Homo sapiens: one gene and its partner. The protein of the gene in region 1 purifies or fractionates together with the protein of each later gene. This does not show direct contact. Each region holds a gene or a part of one and is shown on either strand. Other genes may lie near its edges. The genes, in order: ESPN and FAM98A.

Region 1 (3,811 bases):
GGCCGAGGCGCGGGCAGCCGGCGCGCGCGGGCTGGCGGGCACGCACCTCCTCGCTGTGCGCCATGCCCGGGCGTGCGGCCAGCGTCTCGCCGGGGCAGCGGCCCAGCTGCCGGTAGTAGTCCCCCGTGCTGGGCTGCTTGCTGAAGGCGCGGGGCTTGCGGCTGGAGTCCTGCCTCCGCAGCCCGTCGTGGCCGTCACAGGAGCTCAGCTGCGGGAAGACAGTGACCGGTGGGGCTCGGGCACCTGCCCGGTAGGCGCCCCCCACGCCTCCCCACCCAGCTCTTCACCTCCTGGGGACTCGCGGCCAGCGGCCGTCGAGGGGTGCAGCAGCTGACTTCCTAGACCCCCTGGTTCTCACAGTGGGCAGCGGGCGAGGGTCATGGGGGCCTCGGTGGAAGGGCAGGCTCCGCCCGCCTTACAGGGAGGGGTTCTGGGCACCGGCCAAGGGGCACAGGGGCCCCCACTGAGGCCAGAAGAGGCGGGCCCAGGGGCGGGGTGGCCCAGCCCCGACGCCAGGGGGAGCTGGCGAAGGGGCACCTCCCAGCTTAGCCCTCACTAGGCCCTCGGCCGCACTCCGCTCTCGGCTGTCAGAAGGACTGCGGGTCCCCAGGGCTCCGCGGAGCCCTGTCTTTCGGGGGTCCGGGGCCGGAGGGAGCCCCCTCCAGAGCCTGTGCTCTCGGAGGCTCCGGCTTGCCACGGACCCCGGTTGCCCGTCCGGGGGCTGCTCCTACCTGCCACGGTGCTGGTGGCCCCCGCTGTGCACCTGGCTGTGGGGGCGGCAGGACCCGACACCTGCGTTACCTGATACTTCCTCTCAGGTTACAGCCACCCGCGCACAGCCAGCCTATGGGCTCCGACGGCCTGACATCACCCGGGGCCCGCCAATCCCAGGCTGAACCCCCCCAGCCGTCGCGGATGCCACAGGGGGCGCCAACTACTTTGCCACACCTGGCCGCGGCTCTGCACCCGTCCCCGGCCAGATGTGACCCCGCCCCCTGCGCCTCTCCCTAAGCTGGGAGCTGAGCCCCCACCTTCATCCCCGCCCGAGAGGGGAGAGGGCTGACTGTGGGCAGAGGAGGCCTCTCATATTTGGCCCCCGGCTCCGGGTCGCGTCCCCACCCTTCCCCTCCTGCATCTGGAAACCATCGCCATCCACGAAAGCGACACCGACACCCGCGCTCAAGCCTCGGATTTCAGGGGCCGTAAGGCGGGGTCGGGTGACAGCGTGGCTTCCCACCCCATCGCAGCTGCCCCCAACTAGGCCCAGCTCAGTGAGGGAGAGTGAGGCGGCCGGGCCAAAGACTGAGTGACCGGGTGGGGGCTGTCCTCTGCCCCACTCTCCAGCCCATGCGTCCCTGCGGTGGCCTCAGACCCTTCACCCCGCCCGACCTGGCTCACGTTGCAGGAAATGCGACACCGCAGGATTTGTTTTCTGGGCCAGCCCGCCCGCTCCGCGCCCCCTGCAGCCCGGAGGTTCGGACGCCACGACCCTGCTCCCGCCCCCGGTCAGGCACCCGCGCGGGGGGCGCCGCGGCGACACAAAGAGCCCTTTGTGGAGCGTCCGGGCCCCGGCCCTGGCGCCTGCGGCCCAGCACGCACACGGCCGAGATGGACGCACATAGCCGGGAGGGGCGCACACAGTGGGGAGGGGCGCACACAGCCGGGAGGGGCGCACACAGCCCGGAGGGACGCACACAGCCGGGAGGGGGCTCACACAGCCAGGAGGGGACCACGCAGACCTGGCACTTGGGCTCAACGGTGGAGACGGGGCACTGGCTGGGCCACCTGTCCTGTGGATTTGGGCGGGGCCAACAGTCTGCGTTGGGAACTCAGCGATTCCAGGGCCCCCTCTGCCTCCCAGAGATGAAAGGGGAAGCCACTGTGGGAGCTTGGTCTAAGGTGGCATGAAGAGGGCAGCTACTGGAGCTGGCCTGCAGGTTCGGTGTCCCTCCCATGCCTCCCTTGCCCAGTGGCCTTGTGACCCGAGTCACCTTTTATGAATTGGCCCTGGGGTGGCTTTGCCTTGGGCTTGAGAACTGCAAGGTCCCAGGCTCCAGCAGGACCCCAGGGGGCTGCCACACCACATCTGGCCACCTGTGACCTCAGGCTGTCCCCTCACCTCTTAGACCATCCTTGCTCTGTTCCTATGGCCAGAACGCCAGTGTTCCCCAGGGCACCCTGCCCGGGATACCCGGAATTGCTCAGACCAGACCTCTGCCCCAACCCCTGCTCCAGAGCCTCAGCCAGGGGCCTGCAGGCCCCAGACATCCCTAGGCACCTCACACTCCACCTGCCCACCCTGGCCTCATCCTCTCCACACAGGCTCGCTTCCTTCCAGGGCTCCCAGCTCAGGCCTGGCCCTTTCCCCCAGGAGCTCAAGCCCTAAACTGGAACCAGCCACAGCTTCACTTCCACCCAGCCCTGCTAGTGCCTGCTCACCTTCCCCCCACCCTCCTTCCAGCCCTCACCTCCACAGCCATGCCACTGGCACCTTCCACCTGGCAGCCACCTCCCTTGGGTGACACTCTCCGACTGAGCCTGGGGCTGTGGGGGTGGGGGGGCATGCTTGGGGAGGGGCAGTCTCCATGCATTCTCTGTCAACTCCATGACAACCCGGCCACTCTGTGCAAGAGGTGGCACAGGCCCAGTTCCTGGTGAGGCACAGCTGTCTGGACCTGCGTCCTTCACCCCCCAGCTCCCATGGAGGGCAATGACCTGCTCTTACTCTCCTCCCAGTCCAGTGTCCAGCCCTGACCCCTTGTGGGACTCGCCAGGAGCTTTGACTCTTGAACATGCCATGGACCCAGGGATCCCCACCCTATGCCCACTAGTGAGGCCAGGCCTTTGGCCTCACTGGCCCCCATCAGCCCAGTCCCCCTGCTGGGAGGCAGGCAGGGGGTGAGGGCTCACTACCTCCTTCTTGAGGGCCTCTGTCTCCACGTGGCGGAGTTTGTTCTTGGTCTGCATGTAGATGTCAGCTGCCTGTGGTCCTACAGGAGGCTTGGGAGCTGGGTAGCCAGGTGGGGGTGGGGGCAGTTGGGTGCCTGGGGGCGGGGGTGGCGGGGGGAAGCTGGGTGGGGGTGGTGGGGGTGTGGGCTTCCCAATCGTGCCCCGAGGCAGGCCCAGCTCCGGGTTCAGCATGTCCATGTAGCTCTGTATGTCTGCAGCTCTAGCGCTGGAAAGCCCTGGGGAGGCAGAAGGAAGGGCCAGATTTGGGAGCATGCAGACAGGCTGTCCCCCAAGACTGAGACTCTCCACCACCTGGAAACAACTTGCCGAGGGGCAAGGTGGGCTCCGGGCACCACTTGGTACACCTGCTGTGGCCCCTGGCGGTGCTGGGCTTCCCCTCCCTGGCCCTACCCTGCCCCAGCCCAGCACTTACTGGGGGAAGACCAGGCACTCCGGTTTGGAGGGGAAGCACTGGAGGCTTTGGTGTGTCTAGAGGGCAGGGTCACCTGGAAGGGGAGGGTCTACTCCTTGGGAGTACGGATGGCCACATCCAATCTTTGCAGGGCACCCCTGCCAGGTCTGGAGGCCACCATCTGGCGGCGTGAAGCAGGCATTGCAAGTGGACGGACGCCCATGCTCAGGGCACGGTCAGGGTGTGTGTACACACAAGCCTGCAGTCTGCCGAGGCGATCGTGCATTTGTGTATGTTTGAGGGGGTACGCATTTGTGCACATGCTTCTTTGTACTGATGAATGTGTGTGCATTGCTCTGTGGACATGGTGTGTATGTGTGTGTGTGTGCGTGCATATCTGTAGTATGGAAATAGAGCACTGTGTGCTTGCTTGTGTGTAGGGTGGGTGTG
Region 2 (3,811 bases), on another chromosome or scaffold:
TAGCTGGGCCTACAGGTGTATGCTACCATGCCTGGCTAATATTTAGAAAATTCTTTTGTAGAGACTAGGTCTCAGTATGTTGTCTAGGTTAGTGTCAAACTCCTGGCCTCAAGTTATCTTCCCACCTTGGCGTCTTCAAGTGCTGGGATTACTACAGGCATGAGCCACTGCTCCCAATCTAAAATTTTCTTTCTCAGTGTTCATTAGGTCATTCTCTTATTTGGGAGTCTTTAATGGTTCCCTAATTTCTCCCTCATCCAATCTGATTTTTTTCTGTCTGCTTTTAAAGATTCTTCATAGCTGCTTAGGTTTGTTCTTCCTAGCATATTCAGCTATAATCACCTACATTCCCTCCACAAATATTTCCTGTGTGTGCCAGGCCAGTCTCCTCACTGTCCCATGAATAGCCAGTCTTATTTCCACTCTGTGCCTTCATTTAAGTTATTCCCTGTGACAGATATGTCCTCTACTCTCTTCCCCTCTAGCAAATCCCACCCATCCATCAAAGCCCAGTGGCCTTGCTCCTTGATGAAACCTTCCTTGTACTTGGCTGAAACTTCACCCTCGTACTTGCTGATTTCCTCTCTCTGTGAACCACAAAGTGGTTCAGCATTTAAGTACTGTACTTGGCCGGGCACGGTGGCTCATGCCTGTAATTCCAGCACTTTGGAAGGCCGAGACGAGTGGATGGTTTGAGTTCAGGAGTTCGAGACCAGCCTGAGTAACGTGGCAAAACCCCGTCTCTAAGAAAAATAACAAAAATCAGCCAGTTGTCGTGGCACATGCCTGTAGTCCCAGCTACTAAGGAGGCTGACCTGGAGAATTGCTTGAACCTGGGAGGCAGAGGTTGCAGTGAGCCCAGATCGCGCCACTGCACTTCAGCCTGGGTGACAGAGTGAGATCTTGTCTAAAAACAAACAAACAAAAGGACTGTACTTATCTCCAGTTGTTTAATTTGTGCCTAACATTCTCAATTAGAAAAAATTTGAAGACAGCAAACATGACTTACAGTCTTGTATTCCCACAGCATATAAAAAAAGGTATAGAGTTCACTGGGTGAACCAAAGGAAAAACAAAGCTCTTTCTTCATTATTTTGATTGTTCTCTATTCACTATCACAAAGGGGAAGAAATTAACAAACTCTGAGAGAGTCACTTGATCACCTGAGTCCATTTTCTAATCTGTAATACAGGAAGCCTACATTATGAATATTTTGCAAACTGTGATCTGTGAGCCCTTGAGTTCCACAGAGCTCTTTTAGAGGCAGCTGGGAGGATGAGGAGGAAAGAGCTGGGCTAAAGGTACCTCGTCTCTACTTTGTTAGAATACCTTCTAACCTGTTTTACATGTTAGCTTCTGTATCATGTTTCATTTGAGAAAAAGGGGCTCCAGGTTAAATAGAGGTATCATCTAGTACTGGTGTTTTCAAAGGTTCCTACAGTCTCTCAAACATCTGGTCAAGAGGCAGTATAGCACAGTGTTCAAGCACACTGGCTCAGAACTTGACTACTGTTCTGGGGTTGAAACCAGGCTTCACCCCTACAGGTTGTATGACCTCAGGCAATGTATTTAAATTCTCTGGGCTTTCTTGTTAAAGGTATAACAGTAATAAAACCTGCCTCATAGGGTTGCCCTGAGGTTTAATGAGTTAACACATATAAAGTGTTTAGAACATAGTGAGTACACAATAAATGTAAGCTGTTGCTATCATTACTGTTACACTATACTCTCCTTAATAATTAGAACTGAATGCAACTAACACGTACACATTAAATATACCAGCATGCAAGCCATCATCCTCCACAAACTAACACAGGAACAGAAAAAAAACACCACATGTTCTCACCACTAAGTGGGAGTTAAAAAATGAGAACACATGGACACAGGGAGGGGAACAACACACACCAGGGCCTGTTGCGGGTTAGAGGGTGAGGAGAGGGAACTCAGAGGACAGGTCAATAGGTGTAGCAAACCACCATGGCACACGTATCCCTATGTAACAAACCTGCATGTTCTACACATGTATCCCGGAACATAAAGTTAAAAAAAAAAAAAAAAAAAAAAAAATTATATATATATATATACACACACACACACACACACACACATACATACACACATATATATATACACACATATATATACACATATATATATACACACATATATATACACATATATATATACACACATATATATACACATATATATATACACACACACACACACACACTAGCATGCAAGAAGGTGAGCTCTTCAAAACGTGATTATGTGGAAAAAAAGGAATTATATGTATAGCTCTCCATAAGGGTGGGTTAACAGGTGAGTATTTTCCTTGGTCTCCTATTATAGGTTTACCTACAGCAGGAAGGAACCAGATGGTAGAGTGGTAGGTTCCAAGCTTTTGCCTCTTTTGCAGTGTCGACAAACTAGTGCAACAGTGGAAACAAAATTGGTAAATGCAGAACAGCTCTCAGATCCATAAATTTGATTGTCCTGGATCTCACTGTGATGTATCTAACGATGCATTCTTATGATAAACAAAATGTCTTAACAAAGTGTTCTCTTTCTCCCCAAGCATAACAGAATAATAATGCATTTACTCTACATGCTATAGATGCTTCTAGAATCTGGTAATCCTAAAAGAAAAATATCCCAGTATCTAGTTCTAGCCATCAATCTAGGATCTTACATTTAACATCTTACAAAATATAGGAAGTTCATACATTCTATGCTTGTGGTCTCCATTTCTCTGTATCCCAGTAATAGGGTCTTTTCAGCATCCACGAATTTTTAAGTTACATGACTTTATTCTGGTATTTCAACTTCTGAATCACCTCTAAAAACAACGGACGGAAAAAAAATCTTGGCTTCTTTACAAATTTTTTACATTTACAAAAACTTGCAACTTTCAGCTTTAGTATTGATAATGTTCAGTTGACAATACCTCAATGTTATTTTTATACTTTGTACCTAAAAGTGAATGTTTACTTACTGTTAGTTGCTTGCACGTTTTCCTCTAGTTTACAGAGCACTCTTAATTCAGACACCAGCCAAGCACAGAGTTTGGTAAACTCGGGGGAACTGGCTCCAGCAGAGACTGCCTGAGAGAGCGCTCCATCTTCCAACAATGGGCCCTTGTAACTGGTGAGCAAGAAATTACATTTCAGAAGAAAATACAATCATACCTAATATATTACAGATAAAACATATCTATGTCTTATTTATATAAGCAATAATTTAATAAAGATAAGTTAGTACTTATCTTTATTTTAAATGGACAAATATAAACATAATTTAGAACTATACTGAACCATTACAAAAAGCAGCTAAATGGTAGCTGCATTTCAACCTTTCAAAATGTAGGTGAATATCTAACAGAATTGCATATACTACTAAATTATGTCAACTTCTGTACATTTACTAAAAGCTTCCATTGTAAAAAGATTTATTTTCTTACTGTAATTGAATTGAGTATTAAAAGCAAATTAACAAGTAATAGCTAATTATACTGTAACTTATTTCAGAAATAAAACTTAGGTTATCTTTTCTAAAAATTTTCCAGAAAACAACTAGATTATGTTTTTATTTTGAGATGAGGTCTTGCACTGTCACATAGGCTGAAGTGCAGTGAAGGCACAAGCCACCAAACCTGGCTTTTTTTTTATTTTTTATAAAATAGCCAGGGGTCTTACTATGTTGCCCAGGCTTAGTTAGGTTTTTAATGACTTCCTTTAAAAGTAAAAACTTTCCAGTTAACCATTTATATCATTTTTATAAATTTAATGCCAGTTAAGACTAGTAAGACATT

What was found.
Region 2: the proteins of ESPN (region 1) and FAM98A purify together in Homo sapiens (affinity purification with mass spectrometry; one large-scale study listed by BioGRID and IntAct). This does not show direct contact.

The regions. Positions count from the first base shown.
Region 1 is NC_000001.11:6,445,038-6,448,848, reverse strand, and holds part of ESPN (espin), read right to left. Parts: intron 3,186-3,811; coding exon 2,914-3,185; intron 2,545-2,913; coding exon of another isoform or gene 2,425-2,544; exon of another isoform or gene 1,801-2,424; intron 822-1,800; exon of another isoform or gene 732-821; intron 380-731; exon of another isoform or gene 288-379; intron 209-287; coding exon 1-208. UniProt on the Homo sapiens protein: Multifunctional actin-bundling protein. Plays a major role in regulating the organization, dimension, dynamics and signaling capacities of the actin filament-rich microvilli in the mechanosensory and chemosensory cells.
Region 2 is NC_000002.12:33,592,494-33,596,304, forward strand, and holds part of FAM98A (protein FAM98A), read right to left. Parts: intron 3,145-3,811; coding exon 2,996-3,144; intron 1-2,995. UniProt on the Homo sapiens protein: Positively stimulates PRMT1-induced protein arginine methylation. Involved in skeletal homeostasis. Positively regulates lysosome peripheral distribution and ruffled border formation in osteoclasts.